Homo sapiens: one gene and its partners. The protein of the gene in region 1 interacts with the protein of each later gene in a pairwise test. Each region holds a gene or a part of one and is shown on either strand. Other genes may lie near its edges.

What was found.
Region 2: the proteins of DDX6 (region 1) and ENTR1 interact in binary tests that used the Homo sapiens proteins (3 or more experiments, as listed by UniProt).
Region 3: the proteins of DDX6 (region 1) and FXR1 interact in binary tests that used the Homo sapiens proteins (3 or more experiments, as listed by UniProt).
Region 4: the proteins of DDX6 (region 1) and TRIM37 interact in binary tests that used the Homo sapiens proteins (3 or more experiments, as listed by UniProt).
Region 5: the proteins of DDX6 (region 1) and SPATA6 interact in binary tests that used the Homo sapiens proteins (3 or more experiments, as listed by UniProt).
Region 6: the proteins of DDX6 (region 1) and POU6F2 interact in binary tests that used the Homo sapiens proteins (3 or more experiments, as listed by UniProt).
Region 7: the proteins of DDX6 (region 1) and ZNF24 interact in binary tests that used the Homo sapiens proteins (3 or more experiments, as listed by UniProt).

The regions. Positions count from the first base shown.
Region 1 is NC_000011.10:118,746,482-118,750,579, reverse strand, and holds the end of DDX6 (probable ATP-dependent RNA helicase DDX6), read left to right. Parts: 3' UTR 1-2,817; downstream 2,818-4,098.
Region 2 is NC_000009.12:136,403,372-136,407,614, reverse strand, and holds part of ENTR1 (endosome-associated-trafficking regulator 1), read left to right. Parts: intron 1-53; coding exon 54-470; exon of another isoform or gene 471-669; intron 670-1,636; coding exon 1,637-1,710; exon of another isoform or gene 1,711-1,846; intron 1,847-2,412; coding exon 2,413-2,524; intron 2,525-2,921; coding exon 2,922-2,984; intron 2,985-3,420; coding exon 3,421-3,560; intron 3,561-4,243. UniProt on the Homo sapiens protein: Endosome-associated protein that plays a role in membrane receptor sorting, cytokinesis and ciliogenesis. Involved in the endosome-to-plasma membrane trafficking and recycling of SNX27-retromer-dependent cargo proteins, such as GLUT1.
Region 3 is NC_000003.12:180,915,185-180,919,831, forward strand, and holds part of FXR1 (RNA-binding protein FXR1), read left to right. Parts: intron 1-4,647. UniProt on the Homo sapiens protein: mRNA-binding protein that acts as a regulator of mRNAs translation and/or stability, and which is required for various processes, such as neurogenesis, muscle development and spermatogenesis.
Region 4 is NC_000017.11:59,029,561-59,034,207, reverse strand, and holds part of TRIM37 (E3 ubiquitin-protein ligase TRIM37), read left to right. Parts: intron 1-2,117; coding exon 2,118-2,312; intron 2,313-4,647. UniProt on the Homo sapiens protein: E3 ubiquitin-protein ligase required to prevent centriole reduplication. Probably acts by ubiquitinating positive regulators of centriole reduplication.
Region 5 is NC_000001.11:48,398,891-48,403,537, reverse strand, and holds part of SPATA6 (spermatogenesis-associated protein 6 isoform 1 precursor), read left to right. Parts: intron 1-799; exon of another isoform or gene 800-908; intron 909-3,893; coding exon 3,894-4,187; intron 4,188-4,647. UniProt on the Homo sapiens protein: Required for formation of the sperm connecting piece during spermiogenesis. Sperm connecting piece is essential for linking the developing flagellum to the head during late spermiogenesis.
Region 6 is NC_000007.14:39,340,873-39,345,519, forward strand, and holds part of POU6F2 (POU domain, class 6, transcription factor 2), read left to right. Parts: intron 1-4,647. UniProt on the Homo sapiens protein: Probable transcription factor likely to be involved in early steps in the differentiation of amacrine and ganglion cells. Recognizes and binds to the DNA sequence 5'-ATGCAAAT-3'. Isoform 1 does not bind DNA.
Region 7 is NC_000018.10:35,330,624-35,334,464, reverse strand, and holds the end of ZNF24 (zinc finger protein 24), read left to right. Parts: 3' UTR 1-2,238; downstream 2,239-3,841. UniProt on the Homo sapiens protein: Transcription factor required for myelination of differentiated oligodendrocytes. Required for the conversion of oligodendrocytes from the premyelinating to the myelinating state.

The DNA of each region.
Region 1 (4,098 bases):
GTTCTGGAGCTTAATTTTCTGTGGATCATTTCCTGTAGTGTGTAAATGTGTTGCCCTCTGCCCGCTTTGATACATAAACTTTTGCAGGAATGGGCAACCTGAGAGCTGTTAACTTTCATGCTACAGAAAGCTGCTTGCCATTCTCTTGCATTGTGACAAGAATTGTTACCTGTCATTTTGCACTGTAAATTGCTGGCAGATGCTTTACAGTCAATAGTGTTGCTTTAAATTGTGCCCCTCCCAACATGCTTGATGTTTGGCCTGATCTCCAGGCAAAAGGAGTGAGATGAATCAAAACCAGTGAACTTTTTTTTTTAATGTTTTTAATTCCCTTTTAACCCAGTGTACTAGGTCAATCAGGAGGCATCTGGAAAGGGGGGGAAAAAAGCAAAAAACAAAATTAAAAAAAATTGATTTCCATATTTTATTTTTCAAAACCCTAAAATATTACAAAATAAGTCCCGCATATACTTTAATGTTTTAACTCTTTTGGACAAAGGAATCAATTACTTGAAGTTGCTTTTTTGACTCTGCCTACTTCTGAGCAAACTATTTGCGACTCACCCACAATTCCTTGGAGATCAAAATCCTACAGATGCCTCCTGATGGGACATAGCCCTAACTCCTTAACAACTGTAGCAAGAACTGCACGGTACAAACCCAAAAAAGAACAAGCTCATCTATTTGGAACCCAAGCCTCATATTTTCTGTCCAGTCAATGTTGGTTACTAAATAGAAAACCTAATTAAGGAAGTAACTTTTTTCCAGGGAGGGGTGGGAGAGGGAATTTAAAAGGTGTCAACTTTTGACCAAAAAAATTGTGCCCTTGTACCGATGCAGCTCTCTTTCTCCCCCACCTCTTGCGAGATAAGAGGGATCATTCATGTAGAAGAAAAGAGTATAAATGCAATTCTGTATCTCGCTAGAGAACGTGTGGGTGACTAAACAAAAAGTGCAGTCTCCTTCACCAACTTTAGACTGCGTGGTGCCACATGCCTGTGGGTCCCTCTTAAAGCACAGACTTAAAATGGAAAGTATTACTGAAGTATAGCCTCTAATGAGGAGTGGCACTTAAACTATCTGGGACACCACTACTGGACACGGTCTTGTAGAGGCAGCTGTCCAGTTTTGGTGCTTGACTCTTGAATAGGAATTGTTAAATGGAAAGATGCTCTGAGGACTAGGTCAAAGCCTGGTCTTTTTTTTTTTTTTTTTTTTTTTCTTTCTTTTTTGGGCCCTCATAATAAGCATTGTTACTATTGGAAGTTGTTTTCACATTCTTTCCAATATTAAATATGTATTTTTTTAAGTAATGATAATATTTTCCAGTGGCTCATTTGGATGAGAACTACCCTCTATTTTTAATATTAAAACTACATCCAACTCATCATTTAGCCTTTGGTTGTACAGTTGTGTAATGGGCTATGGACTGTTACACACCTTACCACCTCTAGGCCTATGTTTTTTCTTTCCCCATATATTCTGATGGGGATAAATACTGTTTTGCCTCTCCCATAGGAATGGAATACATTTATTCTAAAATGATCTTTCACAGAAGTAAGAGAGAGGGAAACCTAAATATACCTCTAAATTGTTTGAAGTTGGTCCCAGCAGCATAAAATGGGTTGGCCCCAAAGGGTTGGAGGGTGGGCTTGGTTATCAGTATTTGTTTTCAGAATGAGATGGGAGCATCTTTCCTTTGCCACGTGCTTTGTGCTTGATAACATCATGCTTGGTTCAAACGACAACTCAGCACAAAGCCTTGAGTATAAATTGTTGGAATCAAAACATCTCATTCTGATGACGTGGTTTAATTTTTTAATTTTTTTTTTTAATAGGGGTGGGAGGGAGGGTACTTTGCCCCAGAAGGGAGGGTGTCTGCACTAAGGATTTAGAAACACTTTGGAAGCTCATAACCTCATCAGAAACTGCCTTTAGCCACACTCCTGACCTTCTAGATGAGTAACAAAAAAATGAAATAAGTTCTTGGAAATTAAGCCATTTATTTTAATTTGCTATTTTTTTCAATGTTCTAGGTATCTTTAAATTTGTTATTGTGGAATCATTTTCCTGCCAGATACCTTTATCAAAATTATTGGCCTCATGAGAGCTGAAGTAAGTCAGCTTTTTGGTGAACTTTAGTGGACTTCTGTGAGATTGTAGTTGTACTTTGTATCTCTAAATCTAAAGATAGTTTTTTAAAACTCCCAAAGAAAATCTGCTCTCCTTTCTGATCTAAAAACTCATCTTTGGGGTAAAGAGTTAAGTGTCCAAAGGTTGTCACAGTTCATGAGGTCAGAGGGAGCTAGCCTGGCACCTGGACTCTGCCCATCCACAGCTGACAGATTCCAACAGAAGTGTATTTAAATTCTCCAGTAGACAATGCTGGGTAAGGGAGGGGGTAGGGCTGGGTTATTAAGATACAGGCTGCTGTATTTTACATTGGTTGTGTGGGAAGGGGAGCCTGGAGAAAACAAAGTCACTATTCCCTTTTTTGAAACAGGAAAAAAAATTATTTTTTGTTCAGTAAAAATGGTAGAGAATTCCAATGTCCCTAGCCACAAGGGACCAGTTCCACTGAGAAGTGAACAGTGGGAACTCAAAATTTCAGAAACATTGGGGGAAGGGAAAATTGGCTTTCTCTTAATTGGCAGATGTTCCAGTGGGGGGGGGGGGGGCTCTGTTTTTGTTGGGATGTGTTATGTTGTATGTACGCATATATGGACCGGAGTCTGCTGAGTTTATAAGGTTCCAAAAATATGGTAAAATCTTGGTTTTTGTTAATTTATCTCAATAAAAGCCCACTGGAACTCCAAATGTGTGTGTGGTATGTCCTTAGTAGCAGCTGTGTGCATAGGAATCTGAGCATTTTGCTCAGGTAATTCATACTGTGAAACAGACATTTCTCAACCCATCATTCCTGTGAAGCCCAGTTGAATTCAGAGCCCCTTCATCTGTTGTAGATACTGTTCCACCATGCTGTCAGATTTCACAGCCTAAATGGAGAACCAAGATAATCGGTTGGGAAGAGGGGAGATGTGGTCCATAATATGTCCAAATACATCAGTAATTACCACCTCCTACAATTGTTCTCAAATGTAAAGCTGAACATACCCCCAAAACCAAGGCATACTACATCTTAACAGTATGAATGGAATTCATATGCTGAGAACTACAAACCACTGATGAAATAAAAGATTGGGAAATAAAAGTTGGGAAAAGCAGACACTTAAAGTTGAGCACATCACTCTCACTACCTCTCTACCCAAAGAAATGCTTAAGTATAACTAAGAAAATAGAGTCAGTCCCCTGTATCTGGGTTTTACGTCTGCACATTTAGTCAACTGCAGACCAAAAGTGTTAGGCCTACAATGGTTGGGTCTGTACTGAGTATGTACAGATTTTTCTTGTTCTCTGAACTACAGTATAACAACTATCTACGTAGCACTTATTGCACTAGATACGAGTAATCTGGAAATGACAAAGTGTGCAAGATGATGTCCAGAGATTATACGCAAACACTACATCATTTTATATAAGGGACTTGAGCATCTGAGGGTTTGGGTATTTGCAAGGGAGGGTGGAATCCTGGAACCAACCCCCATGGATACCAAGGGGCAAACAACTGCAATACCTATATGCTGGAGCTACAAAATAAACTGACAGAAAAATCAGACCTAGATAAATGGAGATGCCATGGTTCATGGACTGGAAGAATAAATCTTGAGTTTCACCAATTTGGTCCAGAGGGTCAATGCATTTCCAGTCAATCCCAATAGGCTTTTTTGTAAATACCCACAAGCTGATTCTATAAAATAACGTGGAATGCTGGGTGTGTTGGCATTCACCTATAGTCCCAGCTATTCAGGAGGATAAAATGGGAACATCAGTGGAGCCCAGGGGTTCCAGGCCAGCCTGGGCAACATAGACCTCTCTAAAGTAGTAAAATTTATATGGGAAGGCAAATTATGCTGTAACAATTCTGTAATAGGAAGAAATTGGAGGAGTCACTACCTGATTTGGACTCAATATAAAGATGCAGTAACGTATTAGCAAAAGGATAGACATGTATTGATGGAACAGAATAGCCGAAAAATA
Region 2 (4,243 bases), on another chromosome or scaffold:
GCTCCGAGTCAGAAGCATGGCCTCCATTGTTTTTTTTTTTTTTTTTTTTTTAGGAAGCCTCGAGGCATTCCCTGGGACTTGACCACAACTCCCCACCCTCCCAAACCGGCGGGTATGGCCTGGAGTATCAGCAGCCATTTTTCGAGGATCCGACAGGGGCTGGTGACCTCCTGGATGAGGAGGAGGATGAGGACACCGGATGGAGTGGGGCCTACCTGCCGTCCGCCATCGAGCAGACTCACCCCGAGAGGGTCCCTGCCGGCACGTCGCCCTGCAGCACATACCTTTCCTTTTTCTCCACCCCGTCGGAGCTGGCAGGGCCTGAGTCTCTGCCCTCGTGGGCGTTGAGTGACACTGATTCTCGCGTGTCTCCGGCCTCTCCGGCAGGGAGTCCTAGCGCAGACTTTGCGGTTCATGGAGAGTCTCTGGGAGACAGGCACCTGCGGACGCTGCAGATAAGTTACGACGCAGTAAGTGAGCCTCACGGCGCCCTCTGGCACAGCGCCTGTCCGAGCGGCTTCTCCCGGGGAGAACCTGGAGCCATCCTACCTCTTGGGTGGCCTGGTTTGATTTCCAGGACAAGGCGATTTGCGTGACAGCCTGCTATCCACTTTCCCTTTGACTTTGCTTCTGGTTACACGTGGGAATAGAACCGGCTAAAGAGGACTGGTGAGCTAGAAGCTGTGAATTGGATGCAGTTGGGCACTTACAGGGCTGTACCCTCAGTAAAGGCAGGCTGCAGTCGCCAGCTTGCTAAGTATTCCAAGAGGAGGAAAATTTTTAAAAAATTATAATCACCTAAAAGGTTATAAGCTCTGAATAAAAAAAAAAATTTTTTAGCTGGGCGCCGTGGCTCACGCCTGTAATCTCAGCACTTTGGGAGGCCGAGGTGGGTGGATCACCTGAGGTCAGCAGTTTGAGACCAGCCTGGCCAACATGGTGAAACCCTGTCTCTACTGAAAATACAAAAATTAGCTGGGCGTGGCGGCAGGCGCCTGTAGTCCCAGCTACTTGGGAGGCTGAGGCAGGAGAATCGCTTGAACCCGGGAGGCGGAGGTTGCGGTGAGCCGAGGTCACGCCACTGTACTCCAGCCTAGGCGACGGGCGAAACTCTGTTTCAAAAAAAAGAAAAATTATTTTCTTCCTGAGACAGTGTCTCACTCTGTTGCTCATGCTGGAGTGGAGTGGCACGATCTCGGCTCACTGCAACCTCCGCCTCCCGAGTTCAAGTGATTCTCCTGCTTCAGCCACCCGAGTAGTTAGGACTACAGGTGCCCGCCACCACTGCTGGCTAATTTTTGTATTTTTAGTAGAGACGGGGGTTTCACCGTGTTGGCCAGGCTGGTCTCAAACTCCTGACCTTGTGATCCGCCCACCTCGGCCTCCCAAAGTGCTGGGATTACAGGCGCGAGCCACTGCCCCCGGCCTCTGAGTAAAATTAACTGGCATCTGTGACCACAGGTCTTTGAAAAGTGCCTGCCTCCGTCTGTGGTCTCCCTCTGTAGTGGCTGCAGGTGGATGCTGCACTGACCCAGCATCTCTGCTTATCAGGAGGCTCTGGAGCCACACCGCAGAAGCACACGCCCTTTTGAGCCAGACATGCTGACTTTCTAATAAGGATGTTCTCTCTCCACAGCTGAAAGATGAAAATTCTAAGCTGAGAAGAAAGCTGAATGAGGTTCAGAGCTTCTCTGAAGCTCAAACAGAAATGTATGTAAGCTTTTAGTTAGGAATGCAATCCACAACATCTAATACACAGGGAAATCCGTTTTTAAATGATAATGAAGTAATCAGAGTCAAACCAGATCTGGGTTTTATTGTATATAAATGTTCAGCATCAAACACATTTCTGTGTTCTGCCTAAAAGTTTATTTTGAGACAGTCTTGCCGTGTCACCCAGGCTCGGGTGCAGTGGCGCAATCACGGCTCACTGCAGCCTTGACCTCCTTGGCTCCAGCAATCCTCCCATCTCAGCCTCCTGAGTAGCTGGGACCACAGGCGTTTGCCACTGCACCTGGCTAATTTTTAAATCTTATTTTTGTAGAGACAGGGTCTCACTATGTTGCCCAGGCTTGTCTCAAACTCCTCGGCTCAAGGAATCCTCCTGCCTCAGGCTCCTAAAGTGTTGGGATTATAGGCATGAGCCACGGCGCCTGGCCAAGGTTTATTTTAAACTTTAGGCAAAAAGCCACCAAACACCTTGTTGGAGCAGCAGTGCTGTGAGAGCCGCTCCCTGCACGCCTGCCTGGTGGCTACAGGTCCAGGCCTGAGGCTGCCGCTGCCTCCCCTCTGTGCCTGAGACCCATTCCATCACAGGCTCTTAGCGGGTTTTATCTGGCTCATGAGGTATCTTTTTGTAGTCCTCTTAAAAGTAGCCACAGAAATTAACAACTCGGGTTTTTCTTTAACAAGGGTGAGGACGCTTGAGCGGAAGTTAGAAGCAAAAATGATCAAGGAGGAAAGCGACTACCACGACCTGGAGTCGGTGGTTCAGCAGGTGGAGCAGAACCTGGAGCTGATGACCGTATGGGTTTCTTCTCTGAATCGGACGAGCTGGGTGGGGCAGGAGCGCTCCTGAGAAAGTGCTGTTGTCCTCAGCAGCCGGTGCAGCCTGCCCTTGGGAGCGGGGCCATGTGGCTCTCTGGGACTGGTGTTCTTTGACGTCGCTGTCTCGCTGTGCCTGGGGATAGCTGGCCCACGAGGGCATCCGTGGGGAGTGGGGGGCCAGAGCACAGACACTGCACGATGAGCCCTTCCCAGGGGTGGTCTGAGAGTGGAGGCGGGACTGGGAGGGGCACAGGGGCTGTGAAGGGCCACAGCCAGGTTGGGTGCCCTCCTGCTCCCTGGGTTGGGGCCCGTGTCCGGTATGAATGTGAGGACATCAGTGATGCTTTTTGTGGTTTTTCTTTTTTGGGTAACAGAAACGGGCTGTAAAGGCAGAAAACCACGTCGTGAAACTAAAACAGGAAATCAGTTTGCTCCAGGTAATTAAAGGAAGGGACTTCAGTGTTTTTCTTTGATTTGTGGAGTCACATAATGAATTCAGTAAGAAAGAGGCGAAAGACTCTGCTGGGGTTTCCCCTGAGCCCAAGCAGAGAAAGGACTTCAAATGAGGACAGCAGCCGCTTCCTGTCAGGGCGTGAAGCAGAGGGAGGCCCTGGAGCTCTGTTGGGAGTTTGGGGTCTGGCACGGGGCATCCACTTGTAGGAGTCCCTATTGCCATAGAGCTAGGTGCTGAGCATATACTGGAGTGAAGGGGAAGCCATTAGGCCCCCAGTCCCAGAGGCGAGCCCCCAGTTAGGCCAGAGCATGCATCTTGAGTGCCAGGCCCCCACGGGTAAGCCCTCGCCTCGCCAGGTGGTGACTTTCAGCCGGGTTGCCTCGGAGCTGCTCTGTCCTTAGCCGTAACCGTCCCCCCAGGCGCAGGTCTCCAACTTCCAGCGAGAGAATGAAGCCCTGCGGTGCGGCCAGGGTGCCAGCCTGACCGTGGTGAAGCAGAACGCCGACGTGGCCCTGCAGAACCTCCGGGTGGTCATGAACAGTGCACAGGCTTCCATCAAGTGAGTGCCTGGGAGGCACCGGGAAGCCTGGCGGGGAAAGGGGTGAGATTGGAGTGGTCGTCAGTGATCCTGGGTGGGGGCCCAGGCTGATGGCACCGTGGCTGGAGGACCAGGGAGCTGCAGGGAGGGACGCGTGCTCAGTGGTCCTGTTAGCTCTCTGGGTCACTGTGTGGACAGACCACAGGCTTTCTAACCTGCCTCGCAGTGTCTGATCCCACCTGGGAGGTGCAGACAGCCACAGCACCCTGCACTGAACCTCAGCCCCACCCCATGTGGGCGCTGAAGCTCTGAATAAAGGAAATAGTGGGGGTTTCCCTCCTGCTGAAAAAGCCACTTCCCAGAAGGCCCTTACTGCTGTGCCTGGCTGGGGACACGCCAGCCACCATGACTGTGACAGTGGTGAGTGTCTGCCACCCATTGGGCTGAGCTCTGCAGGGCGGTGTTGGCCCCCAGAGCACTCCCTGTGAACAAGGGAGCCGTCTCCTGTGAAGTCAGGTGTGGGTCTCCTCCAAGAGGAGCTAGGAGTGGAAAACCTGTGGTTCTCCCCCAGCCCCTCCCTTTCTCCCAGGAACCCTGTCCCTTTCTTCCCCCGGCAAACCCCACCCCTTGCTCCCAGGAACCCTGTCCCTTTCTTCCCCGGCAAACCCCACCCCTTGCTCCCTGGGACCCTGTCCCTTTCTCCC
Region 3 (4,647 bases), on another chromosome or scaffold:
TTAATTTACATACAGTAAAATAAGCCTTTTTTGGTGTACGGTTATGAATCTTGATAAATGCTGACAATTATCAAGATTAACTGTCACTTTAACTGTGGTGGTGTCAGCATTTATCAAGATTCATAGCCCCCAAATTTCCGTCATGCCCTTTTCAGTCAACCATTCCTCAACCCCAGCTTCTAGAGTGTTTTCTGTCCCCATAGTTTTTCTTATTCAGAACGTTACGTATATAGAATCGTACACTATATTGTGTAGTGTTTTGAGTCCGGCTTCCATTTAGCGTAGAAGCAATTTAATTTTAATTAGTTTTTTTCCAATTTAGAAGATAATACATGGTCACTGAGGTAATTTTGGAACTCAGCAAAAACTAGAAGTTGCCTTGAGATGAGAGCTGTTAACATTTTAGTGTATTTCTTTGGTTTTTTTTGGTGGTTTTTCAATGTACAGGTGATCTGAATTTCCCTTTTTTCCCCTCCTCTTACCCCGTATAGGCAGAAGACACACATTTGGCCGTAAGTGTGAATTGCCATTGATGAGTTTCAAAGTCAGTTATCATGCCTTGAGGCAGTACTCTGTAGACTTTGATTAAAGTTTTTGTAGTAGAACTGAAACTTCATTTCACAAATTAATTGGAACCAGTGAAACGCTGAAGATCTGAATATTTTACCTAAAATTAGGGTAGCCTTTAAAAAATAGTATGTACACAAATGGTGGCATGCTAAATACATTGTTCTGCATTTAACAGTGGCTCTATAGTTAGAGATATTAGAAACTTGATTTGTGCATGTTCGTAGCCCTATAAATCTGCGGGGATGAGAGAGAATGGGAAGATGTTAATTAAGCATTTGTTGGTGGGCTATGCTGTTATATAAAATAACATTATAGGCTTTGTACTTTTGTACTTCTCATACCTAAAGTAGCATCTTAGGTTTTATACTACTGGACATTTAAGGTGTCTTGAAAAAGAAAGTTTTAATGAGGTAGAATGTATATTCTATAAAACAACCTTTTTTAAGTGTACAGTTGAATGACAGTGTATTTACAGAGTTGTGTAACCACCGCCACAGTCTTCCTTCAGAACGTTCCATTACCCCACAGAAACCTCCGGCTCATTTGCATCATTAAAGTGCTTTTTAACTGATGTATAAATATATATTAGTCTTTGTAATAGCATTGCAATTTGTATGGCCTTGGGCTGAGTATAATTTCATTTTATTTTTATTTTTTGAGACAGAATCTTGCTCTTTTGCCCGGGTGGGAGCACAGTGGTGGGAGCGCAGTGGTGCGATCTCGGCTCACTGCAACCTCCACCTCCCAGGTTCAAGTGATTCTCCTGCCTCAGCCTCCCAGGTAGCTGGGACAACAGGCATGTGCTAACATGGCCGGCTAATTTTTGTATTTTTAGTAGAGACGGGGTTTTACTGTGTAGGCCAGGCTGGCCTCGAACTCCTGACGTCAAATGATCGCCCTCCTCGGCCTCCCAAAGTGCTGGGATTACAGGTGTGAGCCACCACGCCCGACCATGAGTATAATTTTAAATAGAAGTTGGAAGTAAGTCACTCAGTTTCTGGCTCATAGGAAAGTTTCCATGATGTTCGAAGGGAACCTGTAAGCTCTGAGATTTCAGTCACTTTCTGCAGAAGGTAGAGTTACATTTTTTTGTTTTCTTGAGACGGAGTCTTGCTCTGTCACCAGGCTGGAGTGCAGTGGTGCAATCTTGGCTGGCTGCAACCTCTGACTCAGTGGTTCAAGCGATTCTCCTGCCTCAGCCTCCTGAGTAGCTGGTATTTCAGGGACGCACCACCACGCCCAGCTAATTTTTTGTATTTTTAGTAGAGACGGAGTTTCACCATGTTGGCCAGGATGTTCTCGATCTCCAGGATGGCCTCCATCTGTCCGCCTCGGCGTCCCAAGGTGCTGGGAATACAGGCGTGAGCCACCGCGCCTGGCCAGAGTTAATTACTTTTAGAGCTGTCTGCTTCCACCGTGTAACTGTCTACAAAACAAATCTCAAAGTACTATATTTCTATAATTCCCTGTTTAGCTTGATTTAATATTAAGTGGAATTTGAGCGTAATCTAAATTATGCATAGATATATTAATAATGATGACCAATAGAATTATAGTAAAAAGTTGCGTTCAGAGGGTATGCTGACTTTTCAAGGTTAGTACAGAATCTTGTTAGTTGGTTTCATTGTGGAGATTTGTAATTGAAAAAACGATAATTGTCTTAATATTAGGCCACCCTGTTAATTTAAAAATACATAGTTCCAGATAATTTAAAATGGTTGTTTTGCATATTTAAAAAGATAATTTTCATTAAAATGCTAAGTAATGAAGATTTAACTGGATGTCAAAATAAATGATCACAACAGCTTTTATTTTCATTCACAGATAGTTGCAAAACGTGGAGGGGAAGGAAGGCTGGGATTTTCTACTCTATCTTGCTGATGGTGATCACAGTTATTAAAAAGTCAACTTAGGCCGGGCGCCGTGGCTCATGCCTGTAATCCCAGCACTTTGTGGGGCTGAGGTGCGTGGATCACGAGGTCAGGAGTTCGAGACCAGCCTGGCCAACATAGAGAAACCCCGTCTCTACTAAAAATACAAAAATTAGCCAGGTGTGGTGGCACGCGCCTGTAGTCCCAGCTACTTGGGAAGCTGAGGTGGGAGAATCGCTTGAACCGGGGAGGCAGAGGTTGCAGTGAGCCGAGATCATGCCATTGCACTCCAGCCTGGGTGACAGAGTGAGACTCTGTCTCCAAAAAAAAAAAAAAAAAAAAAAGTCAATTTAAATGCATATATTTCTTGTAAAGTTTTGTGTTTTGTATTAGAAGAGCAACACATAATTACGAAAAATATGAAAGCAGAAAAGCACATCTTACCTATCTAGAGAGATACTGTCAAGGCCCTGGCTTTAAATACTTCCAGAAAACATTATTTTTCCGTATTTTTACTTTTATGTACCTGTTATTTTCTATGTCAGATATTTGTGTGCCTTCTGTAAGATAATAGTTTAAGATGAGAGCCTGTTCTTTACTAGATTATGTATTAAGCTTCTATATGTATTTCCTGATTTTCTTTTCCCAAGAACTCTGTGAGGTTGGTTTTATTTTTTTAATTTTTATTTTTTAGTAGAGATGGGGTCTTGCTATTTAGATCAGGCTGGTCTCAAACTCCTGGTCTCAAGCAATACTCCCATCTGGGCCTCCCAGAGTGCTGGGATTACAGGCATGAACCACTGAGTCTGGCCAGCATTAGGGATTTTTCAAAGTAACTTTTAGGATAGTGAGCTTACATTTTCATTAGGAGGAAAAGGGCAGATACTTTGCTGGATTATCACTCTGGATAAGTTCTCTATCACAGTGTTTAAGGTTGTCAAATTAGCTTTTTTGTAGTGGGAAGAGCAATATGCATTCATTCCATGATTGACCCCTAATTCTTGTAATAGTTTTTAACTGGCAGGATCATCCAGGTAAACACCTTGGTTTTTTCATATGCAGTATGAAGCAGTTGTATTTCCTTTAACCTATTTATAAGTTGTGAAATCTTTGCTAGTTTCTGTTGATGGCAGTCCCATCTACCTCTAGCAACTGTAACTAATTTTCATTGAGTACCCAGACTACTTACCAGACTTTGTAGGTGCCTTACTCGAATTTCCCATTTAATCCTTTCAACCACAGTGAAGTAGATAACTCCACTATTTGAGAATACTGAGGCTAAGTGAATCCAGGTCTGTAAAGTTAGATGCTGATTCAAGATTCAGACTCTAAAGTTTGACACCACAGAACCAATTTCTTTAACCATTATGGTGCAATATTTTTTGAAGTACAAATGTTTTGCCACATTATTACTAATTTTGAATTGTTACTAATATGAGGAGAATTATGAGGAATAAATTGGGAGGTTCCCAGAGAAATGATTTGAGCTATGCCTTTGCTTTAGACAAATCTGCTTTCTAATATAGTAGCCACCAGCCATGGAGCTGAAATGTACTAGTCTGAATTGAGACATGCTTTAAATGTAAAATACAAATTGGGTTTCAAAGCCTTAGAATTAAAAAAAAATGTGAAACACCTAAATTTTATTTTTTTTTTATTTTTGTTTTTTTTTTTTTTGAGCCAGAGTCTTGCTCTGTTGCCCAGGCTGGAGTGCAGTGGCACTATCTCGGGTCATTGCAACTTCCGCCTCCTGGGTTCACGTGATTCTCATGCCTGAGCCACCCGAGTAGCTGGGATTATAGCTGTGTGCCTCCACGCCCAGGCAATTTTTGTATTTTTAGTAGAGACAGGGTTTCACCATGTTGGCCGGCTGGTTTCGAACTCCTAACCTCAAATGTTCCACCTGGCTCAGCCTCCCAAAGTGCTGGGATTACAGGCGTGAGCCACTGCGCCGGGCCAATAATTTTTTACATTGATTACATGTTGGATAATATTTTAGGTATATTAGGTTAAATAATATTGAAATTAATATTATCTATTTCTTTTCATGCATTTTGTTTTATTTTGAGATGGAGTCTTGCTCTGTTGCCCAGACTGGAGTGCAGTGGCGCAATCTCAGCTCACTGCAACCTCTGCCTCCCGGGTTCAAGCAATTCTCCCGTCTCAGCCTCCTGAATAGCTGGGACTAAAGGTGCCAGCCACCACG
Region 4 (4,647 bases), on another chromosome or scaffold:
CCATTCACTGGGCTACTGGACTTAACTATACATAAGAACGATCTGAGTAGCTTTTTGGGAAAAAGTCCTGGATCTCACCTCCGTATCCTTTTTTTTTTTTTGAGATGGAGTCTCACTCTGTCAACCAGACTAGAGTGCAGTGGTGTGATCTTGGCTCACTGTAACCTCTGCCTCCCAGGTTCAAGCAATTCTCCTGCCTCAGCCTCCCGAGTAGCTGGGATTACAGGTGCCTGCCACCACACCTGGCTATTCTTTTGTATTTTGGTTTCACCATGTTGGCAAGGCTGGTCTCTAACTCTTGACCTCAGGTGATCTGCACACCTTGGCCTCCCAAAGTGCTGGGATAACAGGCGTGAGCCACTGCACCCAGCTTCTCACCCCAGTATTCTTGTTCAGTGTATCTAGGATGTAATTTTAAAAACTCCTTCAGCTGACTGACATACAACCCAATTTGGGAATTCCTTAGTAAAAGAAAAGAGGTAAAAACAGTTTTCAGCTGGGTGCGGTGGCTCACACCTGTAATCCCAGCACTTTGGGAGGCTGAGGCGGGCGGATCACTAGGTTAGGAGATCCAGACCATCCTAACACGGTGAAACCCCGTATCTACTGAAAATACAGGTGTGGTGGTGCATGCCTGTAGTCCCCACTACGGGAGGCTGAGGCAGGAGAATCGCTTGAACCCAGGAGGCGGAGGTTGCCGTGAGTGGAGATCGGGCCGCTGCACTCCAGCCTGGGCAACAGTGAGACTGTGTCTCAAAACACAACAAAGAACAGTTTTCAATGTGAAGGGGAAATCGTTTTCTGTTATTTAATAGGAATTGCAGTAATACAGAGGCTGGGAAGAAAAACTGTCAGTGAGATAATAATCCTTAGAAGAGGAGGCAGAAGTGGGAGACAGTGAGAACATGAGGATGTGAAAAGCATAAATTATTAATTGGCTTGAAGCTTCTGAACAATGGAACTTTCCTCCTAAGTTATATCCTGCTGGATCTCTCTGAAATACTCATGGGTAGTTGGAACCTGACTTTTTAATATTTTATATTATCTACTTTCCTGCGTGTAGCATTGTTTTAAAATGTTCTATCTCTTTAAAATATATTTAAACAGCTTTATTGAAGAAGGTCAGTTTTAAGCAACATTTCCATATCTGGTATTTGTTATGCATTATACTAGGTGCTAGAGAAAAGTCAGATGCTTTTCTTGGCTTAAAGAGCATAGTCCAATATAGGGGTATAGGCATAATATCTGCCTACAGATGTCTGTAATGTGCATCAGTCATTAACATGACAGTCCAAAAACTTCAAATTGTACCCCATTATTTAATCAAAGTAGAAAAAGTCTACCAAACTGTCATGACCTATACATTTTACTGTCCAGAGACTTGGGGGAGATTTCTATTTTGGTGTCTAATTCTTTGTAATCTGTTATACTATGGGAATTTGTCTTCTTTTATCTAAAACCAGGTGGTCATGGGATATAATCTCCTTCTCCTTACCCTTACCTCTCATCCCCCCAATTGTGCACATCGTACACATTGTCATCTGTTTTTTTCTAGGGCTCAGGATGGGGTTGAGGCTTGCTTCTGAATTCTAAGTACTAATGAGGCCACCACTCAATCACTGTGCTAATGTACAACTGTCTGGTTCCTTCTTTCTTTTTTTTTTTTTTTTTTTTTTGAGACGGAGTCTCGCTCTGTCGCCCAGGCCGGACTGCGGACTGCAGTGGCGCAATCTCGGCTCACTGCAAGCTCCGCTTCCCGGGTTCACGCCATTCTCCTGCCTCAGCCTCCCGAGTAGCTGGGACTACAGGCGCCCGCCACCGCGCCCGGCTAATTTTTTGTATTTTTAGTAGAGACGGGGTTTCACCTTGTTAGCCAGGATGGTCTCGATCTCCTGACCTCATGATCCACCCGCCTCGGCCTCCCAAAGTGCTGGGATTACAGGCGTGAGCCACCGCGCCCGGCCCTGGTTCCTTCTTTCTGCTTCTTATCATGAACCTGAACTCCTAAGAGATAGGTCCATAGACAAGTATTCATATAATGTTAACCAGTTCATTTTTTCATTTAAGTATAGCTAAGTTTGTGCATATATATATCATTTTCTACGCCTCTTTTGCAGGTAGTAGCCATGGTTATGTGGGTTCCAGTAGTAGAATATCAAGAAGAACACATTTATGCTCCGCTGCTACCAGTAGTTTACTAGACATTGATCCATTAATTTTAATACATTTGTTGGACCTTAAGGACCGGAGCAGTATAGAAAATTTGTGGGGCTTACAGCCTCGCCCACCTGCTTCACTTCTGCAGCCCACAGGTAAAATAATAACAATGATAATTTCCTTTTTTTCTGTGGTTCTCTAAAAGAACTCTTGGATTTTCATTTAAGTATTTCAGCTATGTGTGGAACATGGTGTATTTCTGTGTTTTTCATTGTATACCATAAAAATGACATTTATGTCAACCAAATTAGTTTTTAAATTACCGTTCAAAGGTGATTTGTGCAAAAACAAAGTAAAAATGCCTGCAAGAAGGTTTTTTGTGACTTGCTACTCAGATTTTGCCTGACAGTTTGATCCATATGAAATACGGTTATCTTCTTTATGAATGGACTTTTTTTGGTCAGGCTTCATGAATTCCCTTACTTCCAAGTGGAACTATATCTAAATTGAACGTAGAAAAAGGTGACTTACTCATTCTTTGATGTTCAGTAGCTTAAAAATGTATGCCAGTTGGCAGCACTGTTTTCTGTGCAAAGGTTATTTGTTAAATAGAAATTACATTTGTGTTACTATAATAAAATGGAGATTTGTATAGTCAAATATGGGCTTTTTTAAACTCTCGGGGATAGAGTCATTTTGGACAACTAAGTATTTGCCTTTAAAAGCTACATTTTAAAAACCATTTTTGTTGGAATGCTTTCTAAAGTATAGTCAGTATATTCAAAAATATATGCCAAATATTTTTCTACCTTCTTAAACAATAGTATTATATACATCAAATCAATGATTTAGAACTCTGATTTTGATGTAGTTTTAAGGCAAGATAACTCATTTTTCAATCAAAGTCCAAGGCAGAACCTCTGTGTAAATAACAGAGAAATAGAGCTCTTCTACTGGTGTAGGGACATGGAGCCCAGATTATTTAGGCTTCTTCTTTCCTAAGAGCCAGATATACTTCCTGAAAGTCTGGATCCTCAGCTTAAAAGACTATCTTCAGGTTATGAAACAGTTGCCTTTTATGTGTGCGCCAAGTATGCTTTATATAAAGTTTTACTTAAATGTTAAGTGTTGTTTGCAAAGGCCCAGTGAAACAGACAGGTTCTGATTCTGTAGGTAGATATGTAAGTTGGTTTAACCTTTTTGAAGGACAATTTTGTAGTAGTTTAAAAATATCTATATCCTTTAAACTTGTAATTTCACTTTGAGGAGTATATTCCAAAGAGAAAACAAGCAGATGTTTAAAAATATTCAACAATACAGTTATAGCTGAATAAATTACAGTGTAACCATGCAATGGTATATTTTATAGACAAGTAAAATCGTGTTTTTGAAAATAATCAGTATCATTGGGAAAAATGCAAACTAAATAGTAAGATTTCTGTGTAAAACTAGTTTTCTGTGTAAAAACAATACAAATGAGATGATCTGAATTTCAAATTTAGGTGATAAAATGCTGGCAATAATGAGGGCGGGGAAAATAGTAGAAAGAAAAAGCAAGTTTTGGATTTAAACATCTTGAGTTGGGCATAACAGTGTGACATCAAATTAGAAAGGACCAGTAGACAGCTAAAAATTAAGAACTGGGGCTGGGCGCAGTGGCTCACGCCTGTAATCTCAACACTTGGGGAGGCTGAGGCGGGTGGATCACCTGAGGTCAGGAGTTCGAGACCAGCCTAGCCAACATGGTGAAACCCTGTCTCTACTAAAAATACAAAAAATTAGCCGGCCATTGTGGCAGGTGCCTGTAATCCCAGCTACCTGGGAAGCTGAGGCAGGAGAATGGCTTAAACCTGGGAGTCGGAGGTTGCAGTGAGCCGAGATCGTGCCATTGCACTCCAGCCTGGGCAACGAGTGAAACTCCATGAAAAAAAAAAATGAACTGGAATACAGACAGTTATTTTTCTGGAGGTGATACTGGATAATTAAAACCAAGGGTGTGAGATTGCAAAGGAGTTTTAAGAATATTTTAAAAGAAGAGAGCCAGGAACATAATCCTGATGAATATCTGTTTTTACTGAGTGTCAGGAAGATGAGCCAGATAAAGAGCTTTTAGAAAGGAGAAAAAATACTCATGGAAGCCAAATGAAAATACCTTTCAGTGAAGGGATGTTAATAAAAGCTAGTGTGCAGAAATATATGACTTTCTTTTTATTGAAAAGGCTTGCTTGGGTCATTTTTTGTTTGATTGATTGTTTGTTTGTTTTTGAGACAGAGTCTCACTCTGTTGCCCAGGCTGGAGTGCTCTACAATTTTTTGTAGAGACAGGTTTCACCATGTTGGCCAGGTTTGTCTCAAAACTCCTGAGCTCAAGTGATCCACCTGCCTCGGCCTCCCAAAGTGTGCTGGGATTATAGGCGTGAGCCACTGCACGTGGCCTGCTTGGGCTTTGATGTTTATTTTTTTCTGTGTATTTATTTAACACATATTTAG
Region 5 (4,647 bases), on another chromosome or scaffold:
TAGCGCACAGAAATCAAGCTGCCATAAAGATGTTAGGATCAAGTAGTCTCACAGAGATCTAGGCTTCTTTAAATGTTATGGAAGTTACAGAATACTGCAAAAAGTTCAAAGGATACCTTTTAAGCAGATGTTACCAGAGTTATCAGACTGGGATACTGGTGTTTAGTGAGTATGGTTTCTTGACTGTCTCTGATTTCTTGAGGGACTGTTGCTCAGTTTGGTGGCCATACTGGTACTGCCAGATCAAGAGAATCTTGGACATTCCAGCCTAAGGATCATCTATGTTTTTGAAAACAGCTTTTAGTAAGCTGAGATATCTGGATCTAATACTCCATTTGTCTGACTTCTTGTTTTTCCTTTTTTTAAATATATTTTTGAGACAGGGCCTCACTCTGTTGCCCAGGGTAGAGTGCAGTGGCATGCAGCTTTGACCTCTTGGGCTCAAGCAATCCTTCTGCATCAGTCCCCTTAGTAGTTGAGACTACAGGTACATGCCACAATACGCGGCTAACTTTTGTATTTTTTTGAGATAGAATTTGCCATGTTGCCCAGGCTGGTCTCGAACTCTGGAGCTCAAGCAATCTGCCCACCTCAGCCTCCCAAAATTCTGGGATTACAGGTGTGCACTTATCTGCCTGGCCTAGTCTGACTTATTACTGAGTCACCAGGGTGGCTTACTTCTTTGTCCACAGGTTATCTAATAATGTCCAGATATCATTCATGTGCAGTTGCATTGTGATAGGGTAACAGTGACCTATCTGTGATGAAGAGCCAATAATATGTAAAGCCCAGAGGGCTCAAAGGGCAGGACTGGGCTTATCGTGGAAGGAGTGGATTGTTCATTTACTGCATTATCAGTATTCAAGTAAATTTGCTGAAGATGATAACTGTGACTTAAGCCAAGAAAGGTAAAATATAGAATTATTGAGGGGAACATTCTTATTTTATTTAGAAAGATATTTAATAATTCAGAGTCAGGCTGTAGTTATTTATCTTTTAGATGCAAGCTGAAACACAGCTTTTAGAGCTCTAAAAACCTATGCTTGCCAAATGCAGAGCTATGTTATTGACTTGTTTTAGAGATGTGCACTGTGCACATTGTAAATGGTTAGATATGCTTTGCCTGGACTCAGACAGTTTTTTTTTCTTCACGCTGGAGTATGTTCTTCCAATAGATGGATAGAGAAGTCTTTTTTTTCTTTTTAACTTTTTGTCTGAAATATAGCATACACATAGAAAAGTACATACATTCTCAGGGTACAGCTTGGTGAAAGCCATTTCTAAATGTAAAACCATTACCCATTCATAGTTTAATTGTACTTATGAACTAACATTTCCCTCTGTAAACTTTTAACAAGAGTCTTCCATTTTATTTTTATTTTTATTTTTACTTTTTGACTTGGGATCTTTATTGAACAGAGATATGAGAGAAAAGGCATTGGTGTCAGTATTTAAGGAAATACATTTTCTTTAAATATTCTTTCTAGAAACAGACAGATCTGGGTTCGAGTTCCTCATAAGGCTGCTGTAAAGATTAGGGAATATATGCAATATGCCTAGCATGTAACATTATTAAAATGTTTTTACCTATTGCAAAGTGGAATTCATTATTAAATAGTTAAATATCAGTAGTAACTTTATGAATATAAATTTGTTAATCTGCTGTATCACATAGCTTTGGTTGTATTACAGACCTCATTAACTTAGTGACTTAAAACAGCAAGTGTTTCTCACAGTTCTGTGGATCTGCTGGTTGATTTCTTTAGTCTAGAATGGTTGGCTAGGGATGAATGGTTTAGGATGGCTTTACTCACATGTTGAACAGTGGCAGATGTTTTGCCCAGGGAAGGATCTTAAATTTCTAGTGATGAGCTTCATTTCAGCTGGGATGAGATAGTCCCATCATCTATCAGGCTAAGAATTCCAGCTCATTCATGTGATGGCAGGAAGGTTTTAGGAATAAGAGAGGATAAGCACTTTTGAAGTGTCTCTCCTTGTGCTGCATGTGCTATTTTCCTGTTGTCCAAAGCAAGTCACATGGTCAGTCCATTTTATAAATGGTATAACACAGTCACTTTTTAAAAGTTTTACTAGGCATGAACAGGATCCATTAAGGAATAAGTAGGGTTAGACAGCATGCATTTGTAGTAGATAGTATGTAATTTATAACTTTCTCTAGTAGTATGCAGTATTAAAAGCTTTAATAAAGATGAGGTTAATTAAGGTTTGATATAATCAGAGGTATATATATAAGAAAGAACTTTACAGCATTGCTGAAATGGATGATTATGAGTTTAGTTGGGTCTGGAGGTAAGAGATATTAAAAATGTGTAAAGAACTTGGGGGAAGAGTTCTAGGGACTGAGGAGATGAGAAGGGCAAGTAACAGATTCAGTGAGTCAAGAAGTAGGTTGAGGAAAAGAGGTTTTGGTCAGCAAGGGATTTTCAGAATTGGAATGCAAGGGATCTGCATATTTATTAAATCCAAGATGGAGTAGAATTAGATAATTAAAACTGAAAGACAGAAACTCATGATTCCAAGGTCTTAGAAAGATTCATTGCTTGAATGTTTTAGTAAACTCAAAGATCATTTCTAGTGCTGACATTCTTTGCTTCTGTAAGTCTGTGATGTCACAGAGATGGGTGAAATGGATATGGTAGAAAAATTCTGAATTACTTTTTGAAATCATTGAACAAGGTGGAGAAGGTCCAGAAGCATACCATGAACTACAGAAGAAGGAAAGATGGAGTAATCTGATGCAACTGGTCTGTATGAAATGCATAGACCATTGCCCTAGCTGAAACTCACTTTTCCAATTAGGAAAATTAATTTTCTTTTCTGTGTATCCACTTAAAAAATTTGACTCTTCTTCATCCTATTCACATTTGTATTTTATTCACTTAGTTACCCTTAGCAAGTCAAGAGAGGTGTTGAGGAAATAGAGCTGGAGGTAGGATTGGTGGCTTTTAAAAGTGATTAAAGTTAGGAAGACATTTAAAAATTCTCCGCAGTCCATTTTCTTGAATTGAAAAGCTTCTTATAACTCTGGATAAAGTAGGAAGAAATATTATATTACTTGCTTGTAATCCAACTATTAAGGCCTTTATAAGGCAGAGATTATTTGAATAAGATGTTATTCTAATAATAAAAAAGTTAGAATTATTAAATTTTAGCCTCAAAACTTTTAGACTGCTAACCAGTTTTATTAGATAAAATGTTACTAAGTTTATAATGCTTTTTATATTCCTAATTTTATAAAAATATGGGACCAGAATTAAGATGGTATGTTTATCTGTCATTGTGAAGTTACAGCTCGGAAGGGAGCTTAAAAGTGTGTATTACAATCCAAATAACACATTTCATTAAAATATGTATAGAGTTCTTTATATTTTTGTGTTGTACAGATATATATATAATTATAGCAGAAGGGATGAAACTTATTTTTATAGTTTTATCTTTAAAGATTTTGTAATCAACTAATCTGGCATGTATTTTTAACATTACTAAACATAGTTCTCTTATATAGCCAATTACACGAATATTTAAATATATATGTAACCAATGTTTGCACTTTTTTAGTATACTGAAAAATAATTTTTTTGACTTTGTTTCTTTAATTTTTCAAGTGATTAAGTATCGGGCTTTAATTTTTATAAAGTCCTTGTTGGACTTAAGGAAGTTTGAGACAGTGTACTTTAATAACTACTGCAGAAAGAGTTATCTAGGAGAATGTGGATTTGACTTATCCCAGGATCAGCACAGATAGGAAGGACTGATCTAGTTGGCTTTGATAGATTTTGCGTCTTATTTAAATTACTTTTTAATTTTTTCCCCACCAACAGGAATTTTAAAAATCCCCTTTGACCAAGTTAATTTTTATTTTTTATGTTTAGGATAAATTTATTTACCATTTGGCTCCAGTTGAAAAATCACATGGCAGACTGCAAAACAGAACATCAAGATCACAAAAGAAAAAATCCAAGTCACCTGAGAGAAGTAAATACTGTATAAATGCAAAAAACTACGAACAGCCTACAATTTCTTCAAAATCACACTCTCCATCTCCCTACACAAAAAGACGCATGTGTGAGCTATCTGAAGACACCAGGCGGCGGCTGGCCCATTTAAATCTGGGACCCTATGAGTTCAAAAAAGAAACAGATAAACCTCCATTTGTGATTAGACATGTATGTGTTCTCTTAAGCATTTCTATTTGAAACTGATCAGCTTTTTTCCCAAAAAAACTGTTATTCTGAAATATCTTTCAACTTCTAGCTTATATTAATAATACTTTTCTCTTCTGACTGCTACCCTAGCAGTCTAAGATGGGAAATTAATTTAGAATGAAAGAACTTGCTTTTTTTCAGTCTTCAGACCTGACAGAGATCAAGCTGTGTTATGAATGCCATGTTAAATCCTCTCAGTACCGGTTTCCTTTCTTATACAATAGATAGCATAATAACGCTACCAATTGAACTTGGTTGTAATTGACATTAGTACTAAAATGGCAGAGTAGGGCTTTAAAAGAGAACCAAATATTCTTTATGAAAAGGAAGACCCTCCTTTTTTAAATTATAAAAATTAAAATGGAAAGTAAGTTTCCTTTTAAATTACATCCCTTGGGTAAACTTTGTATGATGGATCTTC
Region 6 (4,647 bases), on another chromosome or scaffold:
ATTAATAACTCAGCCAAGCCATCCATTCTTTGACTTGCACAATGACATTTTTCCCTGTGAGATTTCAGACAATCTCGTGTATTTGTAGTACTGTGACAAAGTTAAACAGAGTGAGCAGCCTGTGGACCTGTTTCAAGTGCCATCTCATCCCCTTGCCATAGTGGTGGGTATAAACCTCAGTCAGTCCGGCTCTCCCCAGCCTGAGAATGACAGTAGCGATGGTATCCTTGGCTCCTAAATAGAAAAGTATACAAAATAAAGACAGGTTGGTACACGGACAGAAAGGCAGGTGGATTAGAGACTTGGTATTTTAGAACTTAGTTTGTTGTCCCATAGCTTTGTCTCTTCCAATTTGGATTCTCAGTGGTGTGGCCCAAAGCATTCCTAGAAATGAACACATTTGGGAGAGATGAGTCATTGTGTTTTTCTGGGCTCTTGGGCCAGGGCTACTTTCAATTTGAACATTTTCATGAGTGGAGTTTCAAGATGTATTTATACAATTCTTACGATGGTGAGACAACGTAACACCTTTGACCTAGGACTAAAATGAACATGGTCCAAAAACGTCTTCATTGTCCACTTGACACCTACTGAAAGAGCAGGTGTCATCAAATTTACAGAAGGCATGATTACAGCAACCTTAATGTTGGCAGCATTTGGGATTCAACTTTATTATTCCAAAAAATTAATTTAATGCTTTTTAAGAACACTTACATTAGATGTACCTATATACCATCTAATTTCTCTATTCCAGGCACCAAAATAGGTAAAATTACCAAAGAAAAATATTGCCCTTCCTTGAGGAGTGAAATTACTTAGGTGTGTCCCCAGTTGTCCGATATAGTCCAGTATTCCTTCCTGTTAGGTGAAAGTTTTGAGCTCTGTGGACCTCAGCCTTCCCTGAACACTGTCAGTGTTTTATAAATTTCTGTTGGCCAGTGAGATCCCAGTGAAGACAAGCCCTGTTGAATGACTGTTGACAGGACTTTAGATGAAGTGACCACGCAGCCTCATGAAAATAAACTTAGGGGAATTTCCGAAAGTTCTCCTAACAGTTTCTCGTGGAAATCCCAGGGCTGTTTGTTTTGTTTTGGTTTTGCAACAAATGAAGGCTCAGAGCTACATTTCTTTCTTTGTAACACTGAGAGAATATTCTAATTTTTCATTTTTGAAGTTTTAACTTATAAACTTAATAAATATGTTTAGAGTACATTTAAATATAGAGGAGCTGTTACTCTAACTTCTGTGGATCTAACAGATGACCACCAAATGAGTGACTTGCTACAAATTTTTTTTAAAACATTACTGAGAAGATGTTAAACAAATCTGTGTCGGTAGGCATAAAAGGACTTTTTTCCTTTACTACAGGCATGTATAAAGGAAATAGAGAATATTTTGGTTTAAAAAAAATTTTTACACTAGCTGCAGGCTTTTTGAGTTTGTGGAACATGGAATGTTTGAACTTTTTAAAAAGAAAACTGTTTAAAAGGAATTGCAAAGATATTTAACTCTCCAAACTAATGATCTTTATAAAGTGTTTTTGTTTGAAGATTATTAAGGGAATAAAGATCAACTAAATTCATGTATGATAGCCTAAATTTTATTTTACAACCCTTTATTTTCATGTGGGCTTTATCTTTTTACATTATTCAAAAATCTGCTGGAGAGATATTAGTTTAGAACTATGCAATGTAGATTACCAGGGAAAGCCAGTCAATTAGGTTTTTTGCTTTAAAAACAAAACTTTGGAGGACAACAATTATTTCTAAAACTGTGCAGATGCTCCCATATCTTTAGAAAAAAATAAATGTAAGTAGGTTGTGTGTTATATTTGGGTGAGGTCATTTCCTGAGATGAAAAAAAATTAATAGTGTTGGTAGGTAGTAACACTCTAAACAAAAATTATCCAAATACCTCGTATCAGGCTTTTCTGCAATATTGCAGTGTAATTTTATTTTACTCTTTTACTGAATTCTGTGAAAAGGATTACATTTACAAAACCAAGTTGTTTTAAGATAGATAGGAGTCTAAAGTATTATCCTTTCAGAGACGCACAGGTAGGGGGATCACTTTGTTTATTAATTTTGATCACTCAGCATTATAGGAGGTCTGGTGGTCTAAAGCAGACTCTAGAAGCTGCCCCTGGAGATCTGTCTATAGATTCTCCATTGAGACTCAGGACCCACCCACCCATGGCTTCGTTCTTGCCCAGGAGGCTTGAGGAGAGAAGTTCTAGACAGGAAATGCAAGGGCAGAGGTCTTCAGGGCCTAGCAGTCCCTGTAAATAAGTAAAGTAATCTTGGTTGTAGAACCCAAAATCAAATTTATAAAAACAGTGTGTGGGACAAACAAGATGCACTGTGAGCTGAATTTAGTCCTTGGGTGCCAGGATGGAGAGCAGTCCATACTCCTTATTTTTGCTCAAACCCACAGTCCACAGGCTGTGCCTGAATCTAAAACTAAAAATATAGACTGTGTTTGATAGAAGCAGAAACATAAATGGAAGCAATCTTTTGGGGCAAAAAACATGATCTAGGTAAAAAAAAAAAAAAAATTCAATACGTAATTTTAATCTGGATAGAGACCCCATAAGCATAAGAATGGTGAAATAAAAGCCTCCTTTCTATGACCTTTAAGAAGAATTTTCTTGAAAAGAAAACTCCTTGGGAGTTTTTATTTGCACTGGTAAAATTTCAGACATCTTATAAAAGCCCTATTGTGCACATATTCCCTCTTGAGTGGTCTGGAGATATGCTGGGCATGGTTGGAGCCCAGTCATGGTGTAGGTGGAAGAGGGTAACCGGAGGGCTTGAGTCCCCCTTCTAGTTCTGACCCTGCCTCCAACTAACTCATAACTTTGGATAGGTCACTTTAGCTCTCTGGACTTCATTTCCCTCATCCGTGTGGTCTGAGGTCTTTTTCAGGCCTATGAATCTATAATCTCAATGTTAGTAGGCCTCTGGAATTTTATTGGCTATTGAAAACTTGATGGTCCTGAAGATTCTCTGAGTATTCTTCAAGGTCAGGTTAATTTCTTCCCACTCAGCTGGGTGGCAGAGTGAAAAGAGAGTGGAGGACAAACATAAGTGGGATAATGATAGCAGAAGCAGATTTTATCTTAGCCAGAGAGTCCAAATTAAAGTCAAGTTTTTATCCTCAGAGAGTCACTGCTATAAGCTCTGGTCCCAGATTGCTTTTCCACACCTATACATTAGAGAAGCTTAAGAAACCAAATGCTGCATTTAACCTTGGCCTCCCACGTACCATCTTGCATGGCAGGACGCAGGATAATCTTTTCCTTTTCTTGTTCTATTGCACATTTTAATAAATAACAGAGGGAGAGAGAGATCAGTAGGAATTGGACAGTGAAAACTATCTGTGCTTATATGAGGAATGAGGGGCACGGTCACCTCCTCGGAGGTGAAGTTGCTTGAGAGCGTGAAATGTATTCTCAACCATGTGCATTTGCTAATGGAAAGGTCTAGTTACCACTCAGGCACAGCAGAGTAAAACTGCATCGGAATCCCACCTCTGTTGCGCAGTGGGCATTGCCTTCTGGTCTTCCCATTTGAGATATTTTCCCACTGGCAAACTTAGTACTAAGTTCCAAAGTGCATACATAATGGGAGAAGGTGGTACATTATCACTTTTTAAAATAAAGAGCCCAAAGCCTTGGGAAGGAGCTAGACCTACGGGACTTTCAAGTTCTCTAAAGCAAATGGTCTCCAATCATGGGTCTGCCCTATGGAAAAGACCCAGTGTCCTAGGCCAAACCCCCTCCCCCCCCAGCAATTAGTCTTAATCGGTTTACCACAATATTACTCAAGGCTCTGTGGGACTAGGTTTGTTTTTTCATCTATAAAAGGGAGGGGGTAAAATTAAATACTTTCTAGAACTCCTTCAGTTCCATTGGAGTTTTATGTTACAAACCCCTAAAACTGTGTAGAGTTGGGTGACTCTGTGGGTGTATTCATATAACTCCTTTGTGTGGCTACTGTAAATATAGAACTCAGACATCTCTCTACCTACACAGGGCTAAATCACTACGCAGAATTCTCCTAGCCAGGACTGAGATGATGGTGAGGCTTGGAAGCACTCATCTCAGATGCAGAATTTAAGGGTGTACTCAAAAATTCAGATAATGTTTGAATGAAATATTTTCAAAAATCAAAATGAACGCCAAAAGTCTATGAACAACAAAATTTCAAATTTTTAAATGCAGGATCAGTAACAGTATTGAGCCATATTGGAGTCTGAGGCAAAAGAAAAAAATCAGTCATATGAACATTTAGTGATCATGAATTTTTGGCACTCATTCTTAAAATATTGTAGTAAGGTCTTATTCATCTTGATTACTACGTTTCTGGACACACCTTTAAATTTGGTTCCTGAAATGAGTGCCTCATTCATCTCACCCTCATCCCTCTCAGCTTTGCTACTGGCTGTCTAAATGATTTAGTTAGCAAAAATCCGCCAAAGTCAATGACATTCTGTCCATTGTAAATTTCGGCCAGGTCTTTGATCTCACTTTCTAGTTGAACTTGAACATTGCACCAAATTTTGCACAGTAGAAAAACAAATGCATGTTGGATAACAAATTGGGGCAAGGAAGGGGCTAGAAATCCATCTTCTTCATTGCACAGATCT
Region 7 (3,841 bases), on another chromosome or scaffold:
AAATTGAAGGGAGGGTTACATGTACTGAAATAATCTGCATGCTAGGCATTGGCTTAGACACCGTACCTATCTCACTTAGATTTGTGGACTAGGAAAGCAAGATTCAGAGATCATGTGACTTGCATGTGGCCTAGAGATAAAATTCAAATCTGGTTCTGTAGACTCCAGGGACATATTCACCATGCCATGGGTGGTGGCTATTAAACCTTGATAAATTTGTGTTTATGGTTAACAAATGTGAAAGCTATTAAACATTGCTGGTTTGAATTTTTTACAGTGCAGAAATGTAAAATGAAAAAGGATATTTCCTTTCACAGTGTTACCGAGAAGTCATGATAATTTCGTTTGTTCTTCCAGATTTAGGCATATACTTATTTAATCAATAATGTGTTAACAGCTGACACCTGTGGTTGCTGTGACAGGCACTATTTGAAGTGCTTTATCATGGATTAACTCTTAATCCTCAGCTACCGTATAAAGTAGGACATAACCCCATTTCACATGCACTACACTGAGACTTGCCTCCTCTCCCCCCACATTGAAGATGTTCTTTTTTCATAACTATATACTATTCCATTGCATGAATATTCTGTAATTTATTTAATCCCCTATGGATTGATAATTAGGTTCATTATAGATAGAAGTGTAATTAACATTCCTGTACATGTATTTTGCTACTTGTGTGGGTATTTCTGTAGGATGAATAACTAGAAATTTATTGGATCAGGTTTCACATTTGCAGTTTTGAAAACTACTACCAAAAAGATTTCACCAATTTACAACTCCATCATTAGTAAGAATGCCTGTTTGCCTATAGTCTGCCAACCCTGAATCCTTAAAAATTTTTGCCAATCTGGTAGGCAAAATTTCTTTCTTTTCTTTGAATATTAATGAGGAGGAACATCTTTTCATGTTTCTTGGCCATTTGCATTTCCTATTATGAATTGCTTTTGCCCATTTTCCTTTTTTTAATTATGAAAGTCTAATGACTACCTTCTCATTGTATAAAAAACACAGTTCTTTGAATAGAGAGACCCTTTTCTCCAATGCTACCAATCACATTCCACTTACCACAGTTTAACATACATCCTCTAGTCACCTTTCCGTACGAATATACATACACATAAAAACACTTTTTACATAAATAGGATCTCATATTCTGTAGCTTTTTAAAATTTTGGTCTCAAAAAAAGATAACAGGTCTTTAAATTTCTTTAATGGTTGAATATGATTAAATACTATGAAAATGCCATTATTTATTCCCTTAATTTTTTTCCTCTCGCTATTACATTGCCAAAGTAAACATCCTATTCAGATGTCTTTGTGCATGTGTGTGAATATTTCTTTAGTCTGGAGTCCAGTAAGGTGGATTTTTGGATCAAAGGGTTTGTTCTCTGTCCACCTTCAGTCTTCCCAAAGGCCTTCATAACTGTATTTTCACCAAGTGTATGGAGAATGTTCATTTCCCCATATAACCATACCTACACTTGATAGTTTTTATCTGTTGGGCGAAAAAGAACCTTTTCTTATTTTGCATTTCCCTGATTATAAAAAAAAATGGTGAGATTGGGGTTATTTTCATGTTTATTGGCCATTTATAGTTTACTGTGGATTGTTTGTATCCCTTACCTGCTTTCTATTGGGTTATGTGTGGATATATTGTTTTTATTTGTTCAGCATCTCCTTCCCCATCTTCTGGTAACACAACCTTTATTTATTTGTGGGGAACCTATTCCCTGTGGCTTAGGTGAGCATGTGACCAGGCCTGGCCTCCTGAGTCCCACAGCTTCCTAGCCACAGTGATAAAAGAATGGGTATATAACTTAAGCCAGGCTAAGGAAAGCCCTTAACAGAACTTCTGCTGGAACTACTGGAAAGAAGGCTTTATGGAGATCCCAGGAACCAAGGACCATGTAAGCCTGAATTTGTGCCATGTGGAGAGAGTCTGTCTGAGGAGAAACTCGGATGCTAGCAGAAATGGAAAGAGAACTAAGTTCTGATGTCATTTTTCTGGAGGCCCTAGATCCAGCTGTGCCTAAAGCCTGCCCTACCTCCGGACTTTAAAGTTTTGTGAGCCAATAAAGTCCCTTTCTTGTTTAAGATAATTGAATTGAGTTTCTGTTCTGATTAATATAGGTTATTTGTATTTTCTTATTGATTTGTAGAAAACCTTTGTAATTTTAAATTCTAGACTTTATGCACTATATAAGTTAATAAAATTAGCATGGCCTTCCATGATTTGGCCTGTGTCAACTTTTGCCATTTGTTACTCCATTCTCCCTATAACACACACCCCACACACATACACTTTACATTCCAATAGTAACAACATTGATGTTGGGAATGTGGATGAACAGCTTTTTACACAATTGCCTCTTTGGCAGTTCTCTTCTTATTCTTCCTCTAGACTCATTAACCTGGGACTTTAAGGGTTACACTGCTGAGAGCTGTACCCATCTCCTACCATTGTTCTTGGGGGATTCCCCTCAAGCATTCCCTGTATACAACCCTTGGAGCCCTTCCAATGACCTCCATCCCAACTCCATGGTTCTCTGGCTCTTTGTTTCATTCTCAGGCCTGTGGACTCAAGACGTGAATGAGCACACACAGACCTGAGCAGCCTCACCCTGTGGGCTCTTTTCTATGGCCAGAAATGTAGCAGCGCTCTATGTCACCTGGCACCTCTATTAATCACATCTCCTAAGATGGAGTTTTCAAAGAGATGTCTTTCAAAATTGAGGAAAACATTTTGCAAGCTTTTATTCAACACATTTAAATGCCTACTCTGGGTCAGGCACTGTTATGGGATTTACATCTGTTGCTTGCGTGTGTGAAAAACTACACGTGGCAGTGGAAAACCAAAAGTAAATGAGAAACAGTTTTTTAAGAAAGCATATTGTATGTCATATGATGAGAAGTGGTTAGGGAGAAAATAGGAAAGGGATACAAAATGTCAAGAAGGAAAGATAGTGCAATTTAGATAGGCTGGCCAGGGAAGGTTTTCACTGAGAAAGTGACATTGGAGAAAAGATAGTATAAGGAAGCAAGCCATGAGACTGGAGAGTGTTCCAGGCATGAAAACACCAACTGCAAAGCAAGCTGATGTAAGAGCAATGCCTCATTTGTGCAAGAAACCAAAGAGGCCCGTACGGCTAGAGCAGAATGAACATGGGGGGAATTAGGTGAGGCCAAAGACAAATGTGGTGAGGGTGGCAGGGAGAAGCTGGATCATGGAGGACCTGGTTAGCCATTGATAGAACTATAACTTTTTCTTTGTAATGAGAGACCATTAGAGGTTTTAAGCAAATGAGTAATGTGACAAGGTGCTGAGAACAGCTGAGCAAAACAAAATCTCCATCTAGTTTATCTAAATTCTTAAAATATTTCTTTACATATTTTCTTATGAAGGTAATATAATAGGAAAAGTTTAGAAATAAAAATCACCCAAAAAGTCATGCGAATCCATAATCCTAATAACATCCCAGTAACATTTTTTATTCTCTATACACCTATATAAATGTTCTATCTATATACCTCTCCCCATCTATATCACACCATTATTCACAACAAATACATATTTAGGAAAAAAAAGTGTGTCTATATGTCTATATACGGCTTCCTTCTTTCCTCTGAACTTTAGATCAACTGTCTGCTTCTGCCTAAGGCTAACCTCTCCACTGGATCCAAGCTGTCTTCTCACACCTCGGAAAGACATACTCCAATAGTCCTCACCTTTCCCACATTTCAGTTTTTCCTGTCTTCTGAAATTCTCTAATTAACATAAAAATATGCTGTTTTTATCACACAAAAACCTTCAGGCCAAGATGGAGTACAGGGATCA